3 separate regions of the Homo sapiens genome follow, and all the other regions are linked to region 3. Evidence: fine-mapped expression QTL. A gene starts in region 3. Each other region holds a variant in brackets. All regions are shown on one strand. Distances are between the middles of the regions.

Evidence for each region.
Region 1: its variant is fine-mapped to the expression of TMEM25 in whole blood (INTERVAL, PIP 0.94).
Region 2: its variant is fine-mapped to the expression of TMEM25 in caudate (GTEx, PIP 0.98).

What each region holds. Positions count from the first base shown.
Region 1 is chr11:118,381,776-118,390,044 of GRCh38, forward strand. UBE4A (ubiquitination factor E4A) reads left to right here. Exons shown (of 20, transcript NM_001204077.2): 13 at 814-1,001; 14 at 2,860-2,960; 15 at 3,057-3,170; 16 at 4,663-4,837; 17 at 7,950-8,130. The region is part of intron 3 of LOC100131626 (a long non-coding RNA gene); the gene reads right to left. Among named protein-coding and RNA genes, the nearest start is that of ATP5MG, 16 kb to the right of the region's middle. The variant C/T (reference allele first, on the strand shown) is at 4,812.
Region 2 is chr11:118,564,363-118,572,362 of GRCh38, forward strand. IFT46 (intraflagellar transport 46) reads right to left here and starts at 1,569. Exons shown (of 12, transcript NM_001168618.2): 1 at 1,428-1,569; 2 at 603-699. LOC124902764 (a long non-coding RNA gene) reads left to right here and starts at 699. Exons shown (of 4, transcript XR_007062907.1): 1 at 699-1,012; 2 at 1,250-1,343; 3 at 1,840-1,924; 4 at 3,716-4,237. RefSeq lists enhancers at 1,612-1,841, 7,709-7,838. The variant G/A (reference allele first, on the strand shown) is at 4,105.
Region 3 is chr11:118,526,181-118,534,420 of GRCh38, forward strand. It overlaps TMEM25 (transmembrane protein 25), which reads left to right and starts at 5,012. Exons shown (of 9, transcript NM_032780.4): 1 at 5,012-5,054; 2 at 5,595-5,691; 3 at 5,970-6,281; 4 at 6,737-7,027; 5 at 7,240-7,371; 6 at 7,677-7,707; 7 at 7,849-7,949; 8 at 8,086-8,175. The coding sequence starts at 5,622. KMT2A (lysine methyltransferase 2A) reads left to right here. Exons shown (of 36, transcript NM_001197104.2): 36 at 1-652. It overlaps TTC36 (tetratricopeptide repeat domain 36), which reads left to right and starts at 1,294. Exons shown (of 3, transcript NM_001080441.4): 1 at 1,294-1,432; 2 at 2,423-2,611; 3 at 4,474-4,813. The coding sequence starts at 1,315. The coding sequence ends at 4,736. It overlaps TTC36-AS1 (TTC36 and KMT2A antisense RNA 1), which reads right to left and starts at 4,595. Exons shown (of 3, transcript NR_120574.1): 1 at 4,324-4,595. RefSeq lists silencers at 3,474-3,768, 4,290-4,569, 4,690-5,129, 5,160-5,259.

The sequences.
Region 1 (8,269 bases), 140 kb before region 3:
CCTGGTTAAAGTAGTTAACCTAATGCCAGAAACTTAACAGTGGCAGCCAGGTGCTAATGATCTTCTAATAATTATATGATAATAAAGCTTATTCTTGCTATTCTGAGTTGGATGAGCAGTAAACTTAAGTCAATGTTATTTCTCATTTCAAGTTTTCTCACTCATAGCTTCTAGTCCTCTTTTCCAAAGGAAGATACTGTGACTTGTAGAATTGCTTCCCTGATTTTTTTGATGCATAGGCTAAAGGAAGTGGAAACTCTGTGTACAAAAGTGAAGATTTGCTGCACAATGAAGAGAATGACCCACAATTCCCTGAGCCGTATCAGTGATAAGTAGAGAGAAGCCATTTCTTCACTGAGCTGAGCATACCTAATGAGAAGTCATAAGTCAACAAGTATTATGCATACACTGTATGCGTCATGGGTAATGTAGCATAATTATATTCTAGTCTTTACCCTCAGAAAGCTTGAAAAGGCAAGTTTATTCCACATGAAACTGTCAGAGAATAGGAAGCAGTAAATAATGCATTATTACAGAGAAGTAAACAATGGCTAAGCATTCAATAGAAACTTAAGTGCTCACCGTCATATTTGGTAAGCTGTCAACTCAAGAGTTAAATGATGTACCCTGCATCACCACCCCACCCCCCGCCCAGCCGCACCAAGAAACTGACAAACTTAAAACTGCAGAAGTGGATCCTTTTTTTTCCTGTAATATGGTTTAGGGTGGATTTTGATTCTTATGTGGAGAGAACAGAGTCATAAATTTGGAGTTAAGCTTATCTGCTCATCTTGCTTTTTGCCCATTTTGCAGAATGAAGAATCCCCACCTGAGGGCCAAACTAGCAGAGGTGTTGGAAGCAGTGATGCCCCACCTGGATCAGACCCCAAATCCCTTGGTATCCAGTGTGTTCCACCGGAAACGTGTGTTCTGCAACTTTCAGTATGCACCCCAACTTGCAGAGGCTCTAATCAAGGTTTTTGTGGACATCGAATTTACAGGTAAAGCAGTCATGAAGCTGAGCCCAGAACTGGGAAGCTGATACCAGTGGAGTTTCATAGTTTGATCCGTATTTGGATATCAAAGAAATGTCAAGCCATTACTTATTGAATACCTACTATATGCCAGGCTTGATGATAAGTGCTTTTTTTTTTTTTTTAACATTATCCCATTGTCACCATTGGAAAAGTTTCACTCTATTATCCCTGTTTTATTTATTTTTTATTTTTTAATTATTCTTGTTTTACATATGAAGACATGACTGCCCAAAAGATCAGTTTGTCCATGTCATAACAAACTACCAAGTGGTAGAATCAGGTCTGTGTCACCTAAAGAAATCTACATATTCAACACCCTTATTATGTTGCATCATCAAATCAGACTCAAATTAGACTATTTGGGTCTTTATATTTCTCTGCCTTAAAATTACAGAATAGTGCATAAAGAGGCAGTGTATTGGTTGAGAGATTCTTTTATCTTAACCAGACTATCTAACTCTCCAACAGTCTAATGGTTCGATTAAAAATACCAGCAGGCGGACAGGCACAGTGGCTCATGCTTGTAATCCCAGCGTTTTGGGAGGCCAAAGTAGGCAGATCACTTGAGCTCCTGAGTTTGAGACCAGCCTGGCCAACATGGTGAAACCCATTCTCTACAAAAATACAAAAATTACCCAGGCATGGTGGCAGGTGCCTGTAATCCCAGCTACTTAGGAGGCAGAGGCACGAGAATTGCTTGAATTCGGGAGGCAGAGGTGGCAGTGAGCTGAGATCGCACCACTCCAGCCTGGATGACAGAGCAAGAAATCCCTCTCAAAAAAAAAAAAAAAAAAAAAAAACCAGCAGGCAACATTCCCTCTCTATCTAACCCTGAGCCCCTGTGTTTGTTTAAACAGTACCCTGTCTCAATCAGTAAATAAGATATGTTAAGAAGTTGTTGAAGACCATTTTTTAAAGGGATATCTACCATCCAATGATAAATACAACTAACATTTAAAGAGGCATTTAACATTTTACTGGCCGCCTTTCCATATTTGGATTCTGGTTTTTTTTAATTCGCTCACCTATCAACCTTAGTTTCCTCATCTATAAAATGGGTCAAAGTGATGATTAAGTGAAATAATGCATGTAAATCTTTATAATACATAAGAAATTGTATAATAAATCATTGCAGTTATCTCGTTATGTGACCATACAACCAAAGTGTTGTAATGGAGTACAATTTCTGTTTTATTTCTGAGGAAGTGGAAGCTGAAGAAGATTAAGAGACTTAGATTAAGCAGAGCCAGAATGAAAACGTAGGTCTTTTGACTCCAAATCCTACACTCTTCCTTTATTATGACCCAGCCTGTGGAGCTCTAGTAATACCTTTGGTATTTCAAAAGCAGTATAAGCCTCAGATTTTTAGCTCCTGACCTGATTTTTCAGAGTAATCAAGAACCTGTTGGCTACACAGTTTGGGATATTGTCTGTGAAGAATGTGGGAATTGCTTAGTGTCCCGTCCTGCACATGGCTTTCACTGCCATAATGGCCAGCCCTGAGCCCTCATTTAAAGCCTGAGAAGTACTCATGTTTGGATATGGAAACATTTGTTTCCCTTAACTTTTATTTTACAGCTTGGTACTTGTCTCTTGCAGAGTAAGGTATCCTTTATCTCTGTCTCCCCCTTACTTCATCAGTAAGGAAATGAGCAAACACTTGGCGATAACTCTAGGCCTTTAGAAACTCCAGGGCAGATTTTGTTAGTAGCCTTAACACACTCAAAAGCAAATGACTACAAAGCAAATGGCTACACATAAGCATAAACTCTTCCTCTTATGGCACCGCCTTTGCTGATATTTCGCTCTTGCCTTACTCCAGGAGACCCCCATCAATTTGAACAGAAGTTTAATTACCGCCGTCCCATGTATCCTATCCTAAGATACATGTGGGGGACAGATACCTATCGGGAGAGCATTAAGGTGAGAGAGTTTTTGATGAAACCTGTTGCTTTATATAAGCCCTAATGAGTTGTAATTCAGTACTAAAATGGTTTTCTTGTGGGCTGGGACTTACAGGATTTGGCTGACTATGCCTCTAAGAATTTAGAAGCCATGAATCCCCCACTTTTCCTCCGCTTTCTTAACCTGCTAATGAATGATGCCATCTTCCTTTTGGATGAAGCCATACAGGTAAAAAAAAAAAAAAAAAAAAAGATTTAACTTCTCCATACCATCAAATCATCAGCAGTACATACATTTTACCTTTTAATCATAATAGAGCAGTCCTTATGCCCCTAGTACCAGACTTGAACACCAAAAATTTGTGATTAGTAGTGTACCACCAAGCTTGTCATTATAGAGCTTTCTAGTTCATTCCATTAGAGACCAAGATCAAGGGTCATTGAAGCATCATGAGATGGACATTTTGGCAGAGTCAAAAATACCATATGGTGAAGCCAAACTAAGTTGTACTGGCAGGAGTAATTCATCAGGCCAGCACTACAGAAAGAAATCAGAGGAGCTTGCTTTTGGTCAGTGACTTTCAACCCTTTTAATCCCAACATGTCAGTAAAATATCTCACTAAGACAGTGATTTTTAACCCACTTTCCTAAAAGATTCTGATTTTTGCACCACTACTTGAAAGAAAATCTCTGATTTGGGTTATTTTTTCATATAAAGGCTCCAAGTTGTCAATACTTCTCATATTTCCACTGCCTTCTAAATTCTTAGCTATATGGTGAAACAAAGGTTTCACAAAGTATAAAATGCAGCTGGGTGCCTCTCAGCTCCTTCAGTGTATTATTTCCTTAACCTTCCCTGGTGGAACTGCTTACTTCTCCCATAAAAACTTGGCTGTCTGTAGAGCAAAACTTCCCTTACCTGTGATGGGTATAGGATGGACAAGGCACTGACCTAAAGGGAGATGAAGCAGGTAAATCCTGAGGGTAGCCTTTAGACAGTCATGAGCTCCTCCTTATGATCAGCAATCCCCTGAGTAGCTTGTGTTTAATTTGTGAGAAAGGTTTGATCTGATTTCTTCATAATCCTACGCTTTAGGATTTAAGATAGGTTTTCTTCAAAAGCGAGAATAGGTCCTGTTACAAACAGGCCCTTTTAAGCAAGAGGTGTGTGACACAAAGCATGAAGCAGATGGTATTTTCATGAGACTGTAAGTTTAACAAGTTGTTTGCTACAACAGGAAGGATGACGTGAGGTAGAGAGTTTTAAATAATTATGGTTCTTCCACGCATCTTGCATATGTGATAGAGCTTTGATTTTTTTGTAAGCAATTTGGCAGGGGGGATTTGTTTTCATCTTTCAGGAAGGATTCATTGTTTTTTCACTATAGTGTGGGGTTTTTTAGTTTTTTGTTTCTTGGCCTGGGTTTCATATATTAAACTATTCATCCTTCTTTGCATTTCACAATGCTATACTATTTCTAGGGGAATTACCTGTGAATCTACCCAAGCTGAAACAAATCTGTATGAAGCCACAATTTCTTTTTTTCCTGAAAGTTCTTTTGAGCTTCAGCCTTATGCTGAGAAATAAAGGCTCATGTCTTTTACATGGTCCCTCGTTTTCCCAGCTTAGTTGACTGGATTTTGAATAGGACCTCTTAAATGTCACGTCCCTTCAACTGCACCTTTCTTCTCTGATATATCCCATCTCTGGTTTCTGCAGTATTTGAGCAAGATAAAGATTCAGCAAATTGAGAAGGATCGAGGTGAATGGGATAGTCTGACTCCAGAAGCCCGCCGAGAAAAGGAGGCTGGCCTACAGATGTTTGGACAGCTGGCACGTTTCCATAACATCATGTCCAATGAAACAAT[C/T]GGTACCCTTGCCTTTCTCACATCAGGTAAGGACATGAAGTACTGCTTCCCCCCAAAAAAGTAATGGCCAAGATCAGCTTCACTTGGGGGATCAGCCCAGCTGAAACTAAGAATTCAGACCCTGGTGACAGTATCCTCCACATCTGGAAGGGAAACGAATCACTTGAGAAGCTTCAAAAAGAATGATGATGCCCATTGTTGACATGGAAGTGAGGAAATGGTCACCCTCACACAGCTGCCAGAGAGCATAAGGTGGTAAAATCTTTCTTGAGGACAAGTTAGCCATATAAATATATGTGTGTCTGTACACACACATATATACATATATGTTTGTTAATCTGAGAAATACGCTTGAATCCTGGTTAAATATGGTGGATCTAACAGAAATTTATCTCTACTCCTTCTATAGCTCCACTGTCCAATTCAGTAGCCACTTGCAACGTGTGGCTTTCAAGGATTTAAAATGTAGCTGGTCTGAATTGAGATGTGCTATAAGTACAAGACTTAGTGTTAAAATGTGAAATCTGTCCATTTTTATACTGATTACATACTGAAATTATCATTTTTAATGTCTCAGCTAAATGTGATATGACAATCAGTAATCACCAGACATTTGAGGAAATCCTCTAATGTGAAAAACAAATAGGTGAAAACTTTGTAAAAACTTTTTAAAAAAACTTTTTAATCTCAGAGGGATAAGAGAAGATACAGCAGCCACAAAACAAGAACAAAGAGGCAATGAAAGAGATTATTTGAAGAATAAGAAAGAGCCCTTGGATATTGAAATTTTTACCTCGGAAATGTTAAATATTCAGTAAAGGAGTTAGAAGATATAAATTCAAGGAACTCTTCTATGAACGTAGAACAGAAGGAAAAAGATGGAAATTAGAAGAGAAAGGATAAGAAAACAAAAGGATGGATCTAGGAAGTCTCAAAAGCGAAAAATGGAGGGGAGGAAGTTATCAAAGATACCAAAAAATCCCCAAGACTCAAAGACAGCCTCTAAATTGAAAGGGCTTGCCAAGGCCCCTGCACAGAGAATTTTTTAAAACCCACAGTGAGGTATGACATTGTGAAATTTTAGGAAATCATGGTAAAAACAAGACCCTAAAATAGCCCAGAGAAGTCAGGTAATGTTACCATAGTTTAAGTATCAAAATGGCTTTGCACTTCCAACAGTGTCATTTGAAGCTGAGACACATTTCTGAGGGAAAGTAAACCTAGGAGGAGGAAGGTGGAATTCAACACAAGGGAGACGCAAAGGAGATTCCCAGGATGACGGTGAAAGGAGCTTGTGTGGCCACTACATAGCAGGCCTGTAGAGCAAGCAGTCCAGGTTGGAGCAAAGGATGGAAACATCCAGAAAGAATGTTTCCAAAAATTAATCAGCAGCTGGAAATGACCATGTTGAGAGTTTTAAATTCCAATGGAGAGTTTGGAAAGGATTTAGTGATAAGAGGCTCTGAAAATAAGCAAATAAGCAAAAAGTTATACTAAAAAGGAACTATATACTCATTAGGACAGCACATGGCTCTGCTGTGAATAATATTTACATAATCTTAATAACAAACTAAATTATTTAAGCAAAAATTTGACTATATATTGAGGGCATCTGTGATAATGACTAAAACTGAAAAATCAAGAACTATCAGTACCAACCAAACATAGCATTATGATACTGTCTGACTTGTTAAATTTGGCATGTATAAATTTTTTTTAATTTTTGGAATTCATGCCCTATAACATAGCAGTTCCTTACAGATTTGTTAAGAAGAAGCGATAGGCCAGGCACGGTGGCTCACGCCTGTAATCCCAGCACTTTGGGAGGTCGAGGCAAGCAGATCACAAGGTCAGGAGTTCGAGACCAGCCTGGCCAACATAGTGAAACCCCGTCTATACTAAAATTACAGAAATTAGCCAGGTGTGGTGGCATGTGCCTGTAGTCCCAGCTGCTTGAGAGACTGAGGTAGGAGAATCACTTGAACTTAGGAGGCGGAGGTTGCAGTGAGCAGAGATCACGCCACTGCGCTCCAGCCTAGGCAACAGAATGAGACTCTATCTCAAAAAAAAAAAAAAGAAGCGATGAGTCTACAAGATGTATCCACAATGAAGTTCATTGATAAGTGTAGGAAAAAACTGAAAATAGTAAAAATGTCCACCAGTAAAGACATTAAATAAATAACTTATGGTGCAGTTACAACTGGAAAAGTCAGCCATTAAAAATGATGTAAAACAGACTGGGTACAGTGGCTCACACCTGTAATCTCAGCACTTTGGGAGGCCAAGGCAGGAGGATCACTTGAGCCCAGGAAGTTGAGACTGCCTTGAACCATGATCGTGCCACTGCACTGCAGCCTAGGCACCAGCAAGACCCTGTCTCAAAAAAATAAAAAATAATTTTTTTAAAAAATGATGTAAAACAGCTGGGCACAGTGGCTCACGCCTGTAATCCTCTAACCCTTTGGAAGCCGAGGCAGGAGGATCACTTTGAGCCCAGGAGTTTGAGACCAGCCTGGGCAATATAGTGAGACCCCATCTCATTTTTTAAAAAGATTATGTGAATCACCCCTATTCTATAGAACTTTCTGTGATGGTGAAAATGTCCTATAAATCTGGGCTGTCCAGAACCATACTTAACTAGCCACATGTGGCTAGTGTGACTGAGGAATGGATTTTTTATTTTTTATTTTAATAGCCACATATGGCCAGTGGCTACTATGTTGGATAGCACAGGGACATACACTTACTAAAATGATAAAGTATTTGCAATATAGTTACTGAAAACAGTAAGTTTCAGAATATGTAAAATATGATCATTTTTGTTTAAAAAATGTCTGTGTGTGTGTAAATAAGGACAGAAAAGCTAGAAGGACAAAATGTTAAATTAGCAAGATGTTAACAGTGTTTATCTCTGGATGGTAGTTTTTGTCTTTTCTGTTTTTTGTTTGGTTTTGGTTTTTTGCTTGTCTATATTTTCTGCAGTGAAAATGAATTACTTAGTTTTTTAAAAAAGTAGTTCCTTCAAAATGTTTAGAAATAAAATAACAGTAGTTCCCAGAGGTCTCCAAATAAACTATACCTAATAAGGAAAAGAGTGCTAATGGATTGAGTTTTCAGAGACTTTGGATTCTTTTCCAGAGATCAAGTCACTCTTTGTGCATCCCTTCCTGGCTGAGCGCATCATCTCCATGTTGAACTACTTCCTGCAACACCTGGTTGGCCCCAAGATGGGTGCCTTAAAAGTCAAGGACTTCAGCGAATTTGACTTCAAACCCCAGCAGCTTGTATCAGATATCTGCACTATCTACTTAAATCTTGGGTACCTGAGATTGAAATCTGTCAAGCCAGAGGGGATGCTGTTTTGATTTAGGGTTTTGATAGTAGAATGACTGGTTGGTAATTATGTGAAAATAGAAAAGAAATGGTTAATTCCTAGTTGCTTGATGAAGGAATCTTCT
Region 2 (8,000 bases), 38 kb after region 3:
TTAACACTATTTACCCAAGTGCCAGGCATAAGGCTGGCACACAGTAGGCATTTTAAAATGCTTGTTGGCCAGACACGATGGCTCACACCTATAATCCCAGCACTTTGGGAGGCCAAAGCGGAAGGACTGCTTGAGGCTAGGAGTTCAAGATCAGCCTTGGTAACATAGCGAGGCCTCGTCTCTATAAAATTAAGAAAAAAAAGTTTGTTGAATAAATAAATAGTGTTCAGTCCTTTAAAAACATTCCACTGTGATTTTGGTTGGGGTTGCAGGCTAAGGGGAGGTTATGAAGCATCTTCAAAGCTAGGAAAAACATAAGTTAAAAAAAAAGAAAAGAAAAAGAAAAAGAACAGTGAATTCCTGGCAGACAGTGAGCAAAGCAGTAACATGAAGTAAATGGTGACAGGGTTGGATTGGGGGAAGATCCTGTAATTTGGAAGGCTATGATTTCTCCCCCTTAACTAGTCAGAAAACAAACAATGGCAAGTGAAGTAAATTGACGCTGAAAGTCAACATTTGCTATTATAAAATAAGAACTTCTTGAAGACAACCGTGAATCCATCCTGCTCTTTCAGTAGCATTTCTCTTCTTTCCTCTCTTACCTTGGTGTCTTGGGGTTGGAGTATAAATACTTGCAACCTCTTCGGAGTCGTTAATCTCTAGACGCTCATCATATGTCTGGTTTTCAACAACCTTGGTCTAAGCAAAGGGAGACATAATTCATAGCTCCTATCATGAGACATAAAGCACTCTGCCAGGAGGTATATTCCAAACCAGCATTGGCTCCTCTTCCTTACTCAAGAAACCAGTTTTTCACAAAACCATCACCCCATCCAAACTTTCCTTCAGGCTTCCTGGCCCTCGGTCAAGCAGTTAAGTCATTCTGTTGCAGCCCTTATTTAGGAACTGCTGGCAGGCTGGCTGAGGAACCAGGGAATCGTGGAGGGAAAGAGAGCCAACTTCTGCAGCTTCCCAAAGCTGTACGACCACGCGCAAGGGCAGAACACTATTTGTATGTAGATGGCCAAGGCTGTTGAGGTTTCTCAGGGAAGGCTGTAGAGGTTCTAGAAAGAGTTCTGTCTCTGGAGTCACCTCTGGGGTGGGGTGGGGTGGGGTGGGGTGGGGTGGGGTGGGGTGGGCTGAGGCGGGGTAGGGTGGGAGGGTCCCCGAAGAGAGGGGAAACTCCAGTCTCTCAGTCCCATCCGATAATCCCAAAATCATCACCTCCACTTTCACCCTTATCTTGCAGATAGGATCCCACCTAAGTTTCTTGGGGGAATAAAGGAAGCAGGACGGTTGGTGGTGAGGTGACGAAGGAACAGTTACCACGGAGATTGGAAGAGGTAACCGGGAATGGGGTAAAGGGGAGTCCTCTTAAGCCTCTCTAGAAAGACAGTTCCCTTTTTGCTGGGATGAGTACTAATTACCTGTAGCCCTTCTGAATCCGTCTCCTCTATAATGGAAAGAACCCCAGCCTAGGGCTGGGGTCTCACTCCAGTCTCAAAGCCAGGCCACTTTAGGATTCCACGCCAAGCAACCAGCCTGTTGTCAGTCGCTAGGCAAAAAGATAAATTTTAAAATTCGCGAGAGTTGCTTCCACTCTCGTGAGACCTCCTGCGCGTTAAGCCTCACCCGCGAAGGCTCTCCACGCAGGAAGAAGATCAAGGAGTCACGGATAAAGCCTCTCTGGGCGGCCAAGTCGCCTGTTTGTCTATGGTTTCAGTAAATACGTCTGTTGCGGCATCTAGCGGCTATGGGTGGCAACGCGGCTGATAAATTTCGGGCTGGTGTAGAGTTAGCCCTTCAATCTGGAAACAAGGTGTGCGTTTGTTCCCCTAGGACAACAATCTCTGGGGATGCAGTTGCTCCCAGATCAGTCTTACCAGGATGTAGACACATTCCAGGGGAAATTTCGCAGCACTCTGTAAGTCCTTTTCTAGCACTATATTACACTATAGTCTTTCCCCTCCACAGGGTGCCATGGAATGGAACATACTTATAGCAATAAATTATTCCTTGGGTATCTGAGGTTCAAATTTAACTCTGTGGGCCGGGCGCGGTGGCTCACGCCTGTAATCCCAGCACTTTGGGAGGCCAAGGCGGGCGGATCACGAGGTCAGGAGATCGAGACCATCCTGGCTAACACGGTGAAACCCCGTCTCTACTAAAAAATTCAAAAAATTAGCCGGGCGTGGTGGCGGACGCCTGTAGTCCCAGCTACTCGAGAGGCTGAGGCAGGAGAATGGCATGAACCCAGGAGGCGGAGCTTGCAGGGAGCCGAGATCGCACCACTGCACTCCAGCCTGGGCAACAAAGCGAGACTCCGTCTCAAAAAAAATTTTTTTTCACTCTGTGTCCTGTCTTTCTTATTTGCTAAAGTAGACTTTTAACTTATTTAAAGCAAGACCTGTGTCTAATTAATTTTTAAGCTTTGTAACACCAGTGTATTGCAGAAATTAGACACTAACAATGCTCATTGGGTGGATGAATCGAGGAATGAGTGAATGGAGATGTAAGGAACAAATATTTTCAAACTGTGGACATAATTAATTTGGGAAGTCAGGGAGAGAGAAACATAAAATATTGGAGGCCAGGTGCGGTGGCTCACACCTGTAATCCCAGCACTTCAGGAGGTAGAGGTGGGACGATTGCTTGAGTTCAGGAGTTTGAGACCAGCTAGAGCAACATAGCAAGAACCGCCCCCCTCCACTCTATTAAAAATAAAAAAAAAATTTTTTTTAATTAGCCAGGTGTGGTGGCACGCACCTATAGTGCTAGCCACTCGGGAGGCTGAGGCGGGGGGATTGCTTGAGCCAGGGAGGCAGAGGTTGCAGTGAACCGAGATTGGGCCACTGCATTCACTCCAGCCTGGGCAACAGATCAAGACCCCATCTCAAATATAAATAATGAATAATAACAATAATAATTTTTTGGTCGGGCACGGTGGCTCACGCCTGTAATCCCAGCACTTTGGGAGGCCAAGGTGGGTGGATCACAAGGTCAGGAGTTCAAGACCAGCCTGACCAACATGGTGAAACCCCCGTCTCTACTAAAAATACAAAAATTAGCTAGGCATGGTGGCGCGCGCCTGTAATCCCAGCCACTCAGGAGGCTGCGGCAGGAGAATTGCTTGAACCCGGGAGGTGGAGGTTGTGGTGAGCCGAGATCGCACCACTGCACTCCAGCCTGGGCGACAGGGCGAGACTCCGTCTCAAAATAATAATAATAGCAATACATTTTAAAAAGAAAATAATATTGGAAATTTGACCCTGAAAACCTACCAGAGGTAAACAAGGAAAGTGCCTTTAAAAAATGAGAGACAGCTTTTCTGGCATACTGATAGTTAAAAATAGAACTGCATTTAAAAAAAAATTTGTGATCTGTTTTGCTCGTAATAGTGGATATGTAATGTGCAGTACTTACTATGTAGGAGCACTTAGTTTTTTTGTGGGGAGCACTTAGATTATATCATCTAATTTACTTCACAACCTTATGAGATAGATGTTACTGCCAATCTACAGATTAAGTAATTGAGGCTTAGACAGTTAAAGTAACTTGCCTAAAGTCACTCATAATAAGCGCTGAAAATAGCAGCCAAACACAGGTCAGTCTGATTCCTAAGTCTCTGCTTTTAACCATTATAAGATACTGCCACTATGGGACTCCTCAAGAAGCATGCTTACAGGGTTGCTTTTTCTTCTGTGGTTTAATTCAGCTACCGTTATATTTCCGAAGAAGCAGCATCAACTGGTCTTTGCTGAGCTTCTGAGATCCAAGTTGGAAGCCCTGGAAGGTGCTACAATAAGGCAATAGTTTCTAACAGGATTTTTACTTTTCTAAAAAAATAAGAATTTGTTCCATGTTTCTTAAAATATGTCTGCTTTTTGTAACAAAAATTAAAATTGGGCCAGGTGAAGTGGCTCACGCCTGTAATCCTAGGACTTTGGGAGGCCGAGGCAGGTGGATCACCAGAGGTCAAGAGTTCAAGACCAGCCTGTCCCAACATGGTGAAACCCCCATCTCTACTAAAAATACAAAAATTAGCCAGGTGTGGTGGTGCATGCCTGTAATCCTAGCTACTCAGGAGGCTGAGACAGGAGAATC[G/A]CTTGAACCCGGGAGGCGGAGGTTGCAGTGAGTTAAGATGGCACCACTGCATTCTAGCCTGGGCGACAGAGTGAGACTGTCTCAAAATAAATAAATAAATAATAAATAAATAAATAAAAAGTTACCCCATAAATGTGTACAGTTGTTATCTTTTTTAGGACATTTCATCATCCCCTAAAGAAAGTTTGTACCCATTGTCACTTTTTTTTTCTTTTTTTGAGACAGGGTCTCACTCTGTCGCCCAGGCTGGAATACAGTGACGAGACCTCAGCTCACTGCTATCTCTGCCTCGGGGTTCAAGCGATTCTCCCACCGAGTAGCTGGGACTATAGGCATGGGCCACCACGCCCAGCTAATTTTTGTATTTTTAGTAGAGATGGGGTTTCACCATGTTGCTCAGGCTGGTCTGGAATTCCTGACCTCAAGTGATCCGCCCACCTCGGCCTCCCAAAATGCTGGGATTACAGGCGTAAGCCACCGCACCTGGCCAGTGGGTACAAGTATTATGTGTCAATTAGAAAATTTAAAAATAGGCCGGGAGCTGTGGCTCACGCCTGTAATCCCAGCACTCTGGGAGGCTGAGGCAGGCAGATCACTTGAGGTTAGGAGTTCAAGACCAGCCTGGCCATGGTGAAACCCCATCTCTACTAAAAATACAAAAAACTAGCCAGGCGTGGTCGTCCATGCCTGTAATCCCAGCTACTTGGGAGGCTAAGTCAGGAGAATCCCTCCAACCCAGGAGGCAGAGGTTGCAGTGAGCTGAGATCATACCATTGCACTCCAGCCCGGGCAACAAAAGCGAAACTCCTTCTCAAAAAAAAAAAATTTTTTTTTTTAAAATATTGACTGGGCTCAGTGGCTCATTCCTGCAATCCCAGAACTTTGGGGGGACAAGATGGGAGTACTGCTTGAGGTCAGGAGTTCGAGACCAGCCTGGGCAACATAGCAAGACCCCCATCTCTCTAAAAAAGTTTTTTTAATGAAAAAAAACTTTAAAATACAGTTTGACATATATCCTCCCAGACATATAAAATTTAAAAATATTTGAGCTTTCTAAAGATTTCTATTAGAAGGCCATTGGAGATGGAATTGATACGGGTAAGAGCAAGAAGTCTATAATGCAGTGCTTAAGGGTATAGTCCAAAGTTGAACAGCCTTTGTTTGAATCCTCGCTTACCTACTTTTTAGCCATGAGACCTGTGGTGGGATAGTTTTCTTCTCTGTACCTTGATTTCCTCATGTGTAAAATGGAGACAATAAAGGTACCTATCTCAGAGGATTCTTGTGAGGATTAAATGAGATAATCTGTGTGAAGTTAGAGTAATGGCTGGTATGCTGTAAGTGTTCAATAAATGTTAGGGAACACACAGGAGATACAGAGGCAGTGTGTTTTAATGGAAAAAGCTGACTTTGTTTTTTTGTTTGTTTGTTTTGAGACTGAGTGTTACTCTGTTGCCCAGTCTGGAGGGCAGTGTTGTGATCTCAACTCACTGCAACCTCCGCCTCCCAGGTTCAACCAATTCTCATGCCTCAGCTTCCCAGATAGCTGGGAGTACAGGCATGAGACACCACGCCCAGCTTTTTTTTTTTTTTTTTTTTTTTGAGACGGAGTCTCCCTCTGTCGCCACGCTGGAGTGCAGTGGCATGATCTCGGCTCACTGCAACCCAACCTCCGCCTCCTAGCTTCAAGGATTCCCCCACCTCAGCCTCCCGAACAGCTGAGACTACAGGCACGCGCCACCATGCCCAGCTAATTTTTTTTTTTTTGTACTCTTAGTAGAGATGGGGTTTCACCATGTTGGCCAGGATGGTCTCGATCTCTTGACCTTGTGATCCGCCCACCTCAGCCTCCCAAAGTGCTGGGATTACAGGCGTGAGCCACCGCGCCCAGCCAGGAGAAAACTGACTTTGAACTTGGCTCTACCACTTACTAGTTGTGTGAGTTTGGACAAATGCTTAACTTTTTTGATCCTCAGTATCTTTATTTGGATTGATGTAAAAGATTGGAAATAACATGTGTAAAGTACCTGACACAAATGAAGCACTCAATTAAAAGTTGCTATTATACTTAATTGTGGACATACAGGTTTAATATGGATGAGTGCTGTTCGGTTGAGCTAAGGATGTAGGATAAAATGATTTAAGGAAGAACTACTGAATCAGCTATACTCTGAAAAATCTGAAATTTGGCATACAAGAAATAACATGAGAATCACAAGAACAGATTTTGAGTCTTGGTTCCATCATATACTGGTTTAGAAACTTTGGGTAAGTCACTTAAACTTTTCACCATTTTCTTCATATACAAAATGGACATGAGCACAACTGCCCTGCTTCCAGTGCATGTTTTTTTAAAGATATAATTTACAAATCATAAAAATTCACCTTTTAAAATTATACAATTTAGTGGTTTTTAGTATATTTGCCTCTATCTAGTTCCAGAACTATTTTTTTTTTAAGAGTCTAAGTCTCACAATTTGCACAGGCTGACCTTTAACCCCTGGTCTCAAGCCATCCTCCCAACTCAGCCTCCCAAGTAGCTGGGACTCTAGGATCATGCCACCATGCCTGGCTTAATTCCAGAATGTTTTAATTATTCCAGAAATAAATCTTACACTAATTAACTGTCACTCTCTATTCCTACCCTTCCTGAGCCCCTGGAAATCACTAAGCTAGTTTCTGTCTCTGTGGATTTTCTTCTATTCTGGATCTTTCGTATTAATGGAATCATATATGAGTGCCCCATTGTATCCGTCTTTTTTCACATAATATTCTCAAGGTTCATCCATATTGTAGCATGTCAGTACTTTATTCCTTTTTGTGACTAAATAATATTCCATTGCATATATATGCCACATCTATTGATGAATGGATTTGTTTGGATTGTCTCCACTTTTTGGCTACTATGAATAATGCTGCTATGAACATTAGAGTACACATTTTTGTGTTGACATATATTCAGTTCTCCTGGGTATGTACCTATGAGTGGAATTGCTCAGTCATGTGGTAATTTTGTTTAACTTTTTGAGGAACTGCCAAACTCTTTTCCAACGTGGCTGCACTATTTTACATTCATCCTCACCAACAATTATTATGATAGCCATCCTAGTGAGTGTGAAATGACGTCTCACCACGGGTCTGATTTCCATTTCCCTAAGGATATTCAACATTTCTTAATGTGCATATTAGCCATTTATATATCTTCTTTGGACACATATCTATTCAAATCTTTTGCTCATTTTAATTTTGTGTTTTCTACTCCCTCCATTTTGCAGATGAAGCCCATTTTTAGACAGGAATACTGTATTTGTCTTTTTATTGCTGAGTTATAAGAGTTCTTAGGCCAGGCGCGGTGGCTGACGCCTGTAATCCCAACATTGGGAGGCTGAGGCGGGCGGATCACTTGGGGTCAGAAGTTTGAGGCTAGCCTGGCCGACATGGTGAAACCCCGTCTCAACTAAAAATACAAAAAACAGCCGAGCGTGGTGTGGCGCGTGCCTGTAATCCCAGCTACTCCGGAGGCTGAGGCAGAAGAATCGCTTGAACCTGGGAAGTGGAGGTTGCAGTGAGCCGAGATCACGCCATTGCACTCCAGCCTGGGCGACAGAGTGAGACTCCATCTCAAAAAAAAAAAAAAAAAGTTCTTTATATATTCCGGATACTGGTCTTTTAGGCACACAGGTTATCCTGTATATTAAATAATAGTGGCTGTGCCAGCGGCTTGTTAAACTGTAAGATGTGACGCAAAATAAATGAAGGCGATGACAGTGAAAGGGGAGAGATACGAGGTTCCACAGCTGGAGGGTGAACGCCCCCTACACCTCCTGGGCTTAATCGTAACCGGAGCGGGGTACCCTCAATTTCCCCAGCCCACAGGCCCCGCCCCCCCCCCCGCC
Region 3 (8,240 bases):
ATTCCTCGGATCAGAGAAAAATGCAGACATGGTGTCACCTGGATTTTTTTCTGCCCATGAATGTTGCCAGTCAGTACCTGTCCTCCTTGTTTCTCTATTTTTGGTTATGAATGTTGGGGTTACCACCTGCATTTAGGGGAAAATTGTGTTCTGTGCTTTCCTGGTATCTTGTTCCGAGGTACTCTAGTTCTGTCTTTCAACCAAGAAAATAGAATTGTGGTGTTTCTTTTATTGAACTTTTAACAGTCTCTTTAGTAAATACAGGTAGTTGAATAATTGTTTCAAGAGCTCAACAGATGACAAGCTTCTTTTCTAGAAATAAGACATTTTTTGACAACTTTATCATGTATAACAGATCTGTTTTTTTTCCTTGTGTTCTTCCAAGCTTCTGGTTAGAGAAAAAGAGAAAAAAAAAAAAGGAAAATGTGTCTAAAGTCCATCAGTGTTAACTCCCTGTGACAGGGATGAAGGAAAATACTTTAATAGTTCAAAAAATAATAATGCTGAAAGCTCTCTACGAAAGACTGAATGTAAAAGTAAAAAGTGTACATAGTTGTAAAAAAAAGGAGTTTTTAAACATGTTTATTTTCTATGCACTTTTTTTTATTTAAGTGATAGTTTAATTAATAAACATGTCAAGTTTATTGCTGCACATGGTTAAGCTTCCTTTTGGCTTTGGTTGGAGAGGGTGGAGAAAAGCGGGAGGGGCATGGCCTGTGACCTGGTCACAAAGTACCTTCCACAGTCCTTTACTTTAAGGTGGCATCACTAAATTATTCCCTGTAGCCCACCTTCAGGTCCACTCCACACTGGCTCTCTTGACTATTTTCTTCCTTTATTCATCAGTGATGTATGTTCAGGACCTAATTAATTGTGGATATGAGGCAGGGTCAAGAGGACAAAGGAACAGGGCCTTTACCTTCTACATAGCTCCCCTGTTTCATCCAAGGAGGTTAAGTATTGATTTTTATCGGTTTTCTCAACTGTGAATATAATAAACTGAAAGCATTTCAGGGAGAAGCTGGAGAACACCTTCTCTAGCTGCACTCCACCTTAAGGCTGAAGCTGGATTTGTTTACTGTTTCTCCTGGGGGCAGGGGCAGTTGAGAAATAACCAAGTAGTCTGCCAAGCCAGGGTCAACCCTCCAGGCCACAGGTTGAGCAAATGCTACAGCCATGGACAGGGAGACACTCCTCACGAAGGGGTGGTCCTCATCCTTTCAGATCAACTTCCTGCTGGAGGCTCCACCCTCACCACGTCCCTCCCTCTTCTCTCATCTGGAGTCACCTTTTGGGATTTTGGAGTTGAGCACCATGGGGACTCCAAATGATCAGGCAGTGCTGCAGGCCATCTTCAACCCTGACACCCCATTTGGAGACATTGTTGGATTGGACCTCGGAGAGGAAGCAGAAAAGGAAGAACGAGAAGAAGGTGGGCATTTGATCTGGAGTGTAGCTCTGCACATAGGCTGGCCTGCTGGCCTCCCGAGGTAGCAGAGAGGGAGGTGGTTTTATAAGGCCCCTTGTTCCATGATTATGATTGAGATTGGAATCAGAGAGGTTGGCTGCTCCTTAGCGCACTGATGGGGGTTTGGTAAGAGATGTCCTGCCAAGAGGAGTAAGCTGGGGTTTGTCTCTCGATCCATCAGCTCTCATGCCTCTGAACTTACCACTTAATTGACTGTATGATCCAAGCTTAACTGCCAGGTGATGTTAAACTCTCACATTTTTGTCATAACAGAGAATACCACCACCAGAACAGAAGACTGAAATAAGGCAGGGCATGGTTGCTCAGTTGAGTGGTTCCAATATAGCAAGCACAACCAGTAACCGTTAAACACTGTCACAAGCCAAGCTCCAAACTAACTCTTCCGCAGTGAGTGCGTTCACTGGCTTTTCCATTAATCCCTAATGAAGGAGTTTTTGATCCTTTGTTTCTAGAGGAGTAAAGCCTACACCTTACTAACTCAGGCCGAAACACAGAGGGATACGTCAGAAGTGATGTTCATGATCTGGGAATGTCATGGTGGCCTTTGCATAAGAGGCGGTGTAGTAGAGTAAAATGCAGACAGGAGCCAGAATGACCTGGGTTCAAATCCAAGCTCTGCAACGTATGGCCTGTTGAGGCCATACACAAAGAACTTGAGCAACTTCTTTAACAGATTGAGGAGTCTGGGCTTCATTCTCTTGGCAATGGGGAACCAACCAAGGCCCCTTCCCAGGTCTCTTGGAACTCAGGCAATGCTAGCTCCCAGCCTTAGTGACCTCATCTCCCCCTACCCCAAACACTGCAACTGACCCCTGCTGTGACCCATACCCAGTCAGCTCTGGCTCAGATCTCAGAATTCCAAAGCCTGAGGTGGCTTTTTCTTCTTGCTACCAACTGCACACCTGGCTTCTCCTGGCTCCTTCCCTGGCCCAGATGAAGTTTTCCCTCAAGCACAGCTGGAACAGTCCAAGGCCCTGGAGCTGCAGGGGGTGATGGCAGCAGAGGCTGGGGACCTCAGCACAGCCCTGGAGAGGTTTGGCCAAGCCATCTGCCTGCTGCCTGAGAGGGCTTCAGCCTACAACAACCGTGCCCAGGCCCGGCGACTCCAGGGAGACGTGGCAGGTAAGGGGAGATGCCCTGTATCCTCTGCAAAAGGGCCCACGGGAGGGCACAGACCAGAACTGAAGTGGCTGTGCGGCTGGGGTGGCCTTGCTAAACCCCTGTGGAGCCTGTCTTCTTACCTATAAGGTAGGAGTAGTATCAGGGGACCTGCTAATATCATGGGGTTAATGTGAAATTCAGAAGAGACTGCATTCCATTGATTAAGGAACAGTTAATGAGAGCCTACTATGTGGCAGTAGGCTGGTGCTGAGGACACTGAGATAAAAGGTATATGGATCACCAACATTTATATAGCAGTCACTATGTACCAGGCATTAATCACTTTACATACAAACTAGTAAATCAATCCTCACAACAACCCTAAAAAGTATGTACTATTGTTATCCCCAGTTTATAGATGAAGAAACTGAAGCATGAAGAGGCTAAGTAACTTGCCCACTATCATACAGTCAGGCAGCAGCAGAGCTGGGATGTCAACCAGGTGGTAGGGCTCGAGTGTGTGCTCTTAATCCCCACATGATACTGCTCCTCGAAAAGCTCCCAGTCCAGGAGGCAGGGCAGACACATAATTCTGAGACCAGCAAAACAAGTTCGAGAGGGGTCAGCGTGGGACCTGTTCCTGAAGGGCGAGTTTTGAAGGATGAGTGGGAGTTAGTTGGTGGGTGGAGAAGGTACAGTCTGTAGAGGTCCAAAACTCCTGCTGCATTCAGGTTATTCTAATTAAGTGAAGACAATGGGACCATGCTGGGGACCAAAGATGAGGCTAATGTGAAGGTATAAACCACGGAAACCTAGTACTACTTGACTGTTAGGAGCAGTGGTGACACAGGTGCTCCCAGAACCAGCAATGCCAGGCTAGGGAGTTTTGAGTCCACTCCAGGAACAATGGGAACCTCCCAGGAGCCCCTTATCCAGGCTTATCTGCCCCAGATCACTGGAGACAGCCTGCAGACCAAAACCCCAGAGAGATGCAGTGGTGATTCCAACTGGAGATTCCTCCAGACCAGCTCCTCCGAGGGAAACCAAGGAGTACTGCATTCTGAGCGCTTCTCCGGAGGCTCAGGCTCTTTGGGGGACTAGAGAACATGAGTGAATTGAAGCAGAGCCCGAAAGAAGCCAGCCTGGTGGACTTTAAGAAGGTGGCTGGCTGCCTGAAGTTCTGAGTTCAGAGTTCTGAGGCCCAACCCAAGTATTTTATGAGAATAATAACAATAAAAATGGTGCAGGCCAGCTCTGGCTCCAGGACCAAGGAAATTAGATACATGGAGATAACCAAAGAATGATGAAAGGCAATCAGTCCAGGATACAGGGGAGAGAGAAGGTGTTCTAAAGAAAGCAATGGAAAAGAGAAAACGGCCCTCAAAAGGAAAACAATGAGAAACTGTCTTGATTGTACTTGTAAGAAATGATTGTGCGGTTAATATTATTTTTTGAACCCTGACATTCAGAGTCAGTCACCTGGCACATAGTGGATGCTTAATAACAGGTGTGGAATAAATTGGCTGCTACTTGCCCGGGCAGTGGGCCAGACTCATAAACATAGTGGCCATTCAGAATCCTGCAACGTTCATGTTTTCGTGTATTAGCGGTGGAAAATAATAGGAACAAGGCGAGACCTGGACTTCAGTCCCAGCTCTGCCACTAAGTGGCTTGGCTGTAGAGCTTAACTCTTCCACAGTCTTCATCTGTGTAATGGGAATAACGATCCGTACCTCTAGCAGGTGCGAGGCGGGTTGTAAATGGCCACGCCCGGGAGCCGCAAGAACCACGGTGATCCGCGCGGCCGCAGGTGGGCTGGGGCTCGGGCAAGGCCGCCCTGGCCTCCGCTGACCCCCGCCCCGCCCGTCTCGTCGGTCCCGCAGGCGCCCTGGAGGATCTGGAACGCGCGGTGGAGCTGAGCGGCGGCCGGGGCCGCGCCGCCCGCCAGAGCTTTGTGCAGCGCGGACTCCTGGCGCGGCTGCAGGGCCGAGACGACGACGCCCGCAGGGACTTCGAGAGGGCGGCACGGCTGGGCAGCCCCTTCGCGCGGCGCCAGCTGGTGCTGCTCAACCCCTACGCCGCGCTGTGCAACCGCATGCTGGCCGACATGATGGGGCAGCTGCGCCGCCCCCGTGACAGCCGCTGAGCGCCGCGGACCCGGGCGTCCGCGGGCGAGGGGACGGGACTGGGCCCTGAACCAATAAAGCCGTCGGGCCTCACCGACTCCGCCTGCTCCTGCGTCCTGCCCGCGCCCGGAGAGAAGGGCACTCGGGGGTACTCGGCGCGGGCTGGGGACCAGCCGGGGGGTGGTGAGCCGCGGCCGCCCACCTGCCGGGTAAGGGCCCCTCGGGCCCGTGGTCGGGCATCGATTGGCCCCGCCTGGCGCAGCCCCCGCCCCTGCAGCGGACTGCGGTGCTCATCAGACCTGAGCAGTTGCTCCGGCGGCGCTCGGGGAGGGAGCCAGGTGAGCCGCCCCGGTGGCGGGGGGCGGGGGCGGGATGCTCGGCGACCCCACCCTCCGACCCTCTCCTCTTCCGCCGACATCCACCGGAGCCACCAACATCAGGAAAGGGGGCGTAGGGCGAGGGATGGGAGAGAGAACAGGGCAGGAGAGAGGATGGGAACAGGGCAGGAGAGAGAATAGGATTAGGAGAAAGGCGATCCCTTTGGGGGAGGGGCGCGTGGAGTATGTGTGTGAGTGTGCGTGTGTGCAAGGTGTGGTTGCACGGATGCTCGTTGCTTCTGCGTATCTGCGGGTGTGTGCCTCTTTGTATTGTAGCCTGGAGTCAGTGCTCGCTTCTGCGCCTGCAGGATGTCCATGTGTCTGCTGGGTGGGTCTGTGCCTTTGGGCTTTGCCGTTCGTGTCCGTGCCTTCGCCACTGGGGGCTGGTCTACATTTGCGTTTCCGTACATGGTTCTTTTTGTTTCTGGAGAGTAAATTCCTGGAGCAATTGCTAGGCCTGCCTGCTGTCACCTGGCTGACAGGCCCGCCCCCTTCTCTCAGCAGCCTAGGGCCTAGGCCCGGGCCACCATGGCGCTGCCTCCAGGCCCAGCCGCCCTCCGGCACACACTGCTGCTCCTGCCAGCCCTTCTGAGCTCAGGTACACCCCTGTTCAGTCGTTGACCAAGTCCTTCTGGGTTCCAAAGCCCCCTCTCTCCCCTGTCTGCACTTCTGTTTGGGTACCCACTCCAGGCCCCAAGCCCTGGAGTCCCTGTCCCCTTCACCCACCTACCCTAGGTCCAACCAGCCAGTCCCTGGTGAGAGGACTCAGGTGCCCTTTCCTTTGGCCTGCTGCTCTTCTCACTGGGCCAATTCCTGGTCACAGCACAGTACCAACCGTGCCTGAGCCCTTCCCAGAGGCCTCCTGCTGTGTTCCAGGTTGGGGGGAGTTGGAGCCACAAATAGATGGTCAGACCTGGGCTGAGCGGGCACTTCGGGAGAATGAACGCCACGCCTTCACCTGCCGGGTGGCAGGGGGGCCTGGCACCCCCAGATTGGCCTGGTATCTGGATGGACAGCTGCAGGAGGCCAGCACCTCAAGACTGCTGAGCGTGGGAGGGGAGGCCTTCTCTGGAGGCACCAGCACCTTCACTGTCACTGCCCATCGGGCCCAGCATGAGCTCAACTGCTCTCTGCAGGACCCCAGAAGTGGCCGATCAGCCAACGCCTCTGTCATCCTTAATGTGCAATGTGAGTGGCCCTGAGGTGGGCAGGGAGATAGGTTCTTTGCCCAGGGACCCCCAGCACCCACCAGGCAGGTGGTCCGCAGGACATTTAGCAGACACTTAAGCACTTTGCAAATATGAACTCATTTGATCCTCTGAGTAACCCCATGAGGTCATTACTATTGTCGTCACCATTTTACAAATAAGAAAACTGAGGCAGAAAGAGGTAAGCAATCTGCCCAGGGTGATGATCCCGCTGGTAAGAAGCAGAGCCAGGATTCACATCTGGGCATTTGGCTCTAGTATTTACACTCATAATCACTCCGAAATGCTGCCTCTCTGGCAGACCCAGCCATCCTGTTCCTCAGCATCCCCTCTGAGGAGAGGCCCAGGCCCCTGGCTCCCATCTGGGTTTGGGAAGAAAGGGCTAGAAGTATGAGGGGCTGTGGTGAGAGCATATTGGCCTCTGCTTTGTACCAGTCAAGCCAGAGATTGCCCAAGTCGGCGCCAAGTACCAGGAAGCTCAGGGCCCAGGCCTCCTGGTTGTCCTGTTTGCCCTGGTGCGTGCCAACCCGCCGGCCAATGTCACCTGGATCGACCAGGATGGGCCAGTGACTGTCAACACCTCTGACTTCCTGGTGCTGGATGCGCAGAACTACCCCTGGCTCACCAACCACACGGTGCAGCTGCAGCTCCGCAGCCTGGCACACAACCTCTCGGTGGTGGCCACCAATGACGTGGGTGTCACCAGTGCGTCGCTTCCAGCCCCAGGTGAGCATGGCCAGCAAGCGGCCCTGCAAAGCTTCAGGTGGGCTCAGGGGTCCCGTCCCCATACAGAAATGGGAATACTTGTTGCCCTGTGGTTGGGTCTTGTGGATGAACTGTCCCCAGCCACCCTGGGCAAGGAGGGCAGAGTAGTACCTATGGCATGTTGGGGCTGGGGCACTACCCACTTGGGACCTGACACAGAGGACATCCTCCAGGGCTTCTGGCTACCCGGGTGGAAGTGCCACTGCTGGGCATTGTTGTGGCTGCTGGGCTTGCACTGGGCACCCTCGTGGGGTTCAGCACCTTGGTGGCCTGCCTGGTCTGCAGAAAAGAGAAGAAAACCAAAGGTAGGCCAGGGACACTGGGGGCAGTGTGGATGAGGTCAGGCTGAGCAGCAGCCAAGACAGCAAGTGCAGCTGGGCAGAACCAGTCATCTCTGACGGTGGCAGAGCACTTCCAGGGGGTGGCCATGGGTACGGTGACATGCATCCCAGGTAGCAGGGTCAAGCACTGGGAACCCAGTCTCTGGCCCCAGGGCCAGGCCTGGGCATTTGAGAGACCCCTTGCCTGAGGGTCCTGGGTCTGAAAGGGTAGGACAGCCCAGCGTGGGAGGGCACACTGAGAATTAGGGACATGGTTTCTTTCTCCACAGGCCCCTCCCGGCACCCATCTCTGATATCAAGGTAACTCTTCCTTGGGCTGGGTGGACAAGCCTAACCGAAATGCAGGATGGGGACAGGAGGGAGCCTGGGGTTTCTGGTAGAGGCAGCCATGAGTGCCTGTGCCGGGACTCATATCCATCCCGAACTTTGTCCTCCCTGTAGTGACTCCAACAACCTAAAACTCAACAACGTGCGCCTGCCACGGGAGAACATGTCCCTCCCGTCCAACCTTCAGCTCAATGACCTCACTCCAGATTCCAGAGGTATATCTAGGGCCCTGCTCTTTGCCCCTGCTTAATCTCCAGAAGTGCTTCTGAGAAAAAGAACTTGGTGCTTGGGAGGGGCGAGGCCTCATCAGGCACACTCCTCGTCCTGAACACTGCCCTCTTTGTCAACCAGCAGTGAAACCAGCAGACCGGCAGATGGCTCAGAACAACAGCCGGCCAGAGCTTCTGGACCCGGAGCCCGGCGGCCTCCTCACCAGCCAAGGTACTGGGGAAGGGGCCTGCCACCCTCCTCCTCTGCCCCCCAGCCCTGTGCTTATGCCAGAGGCC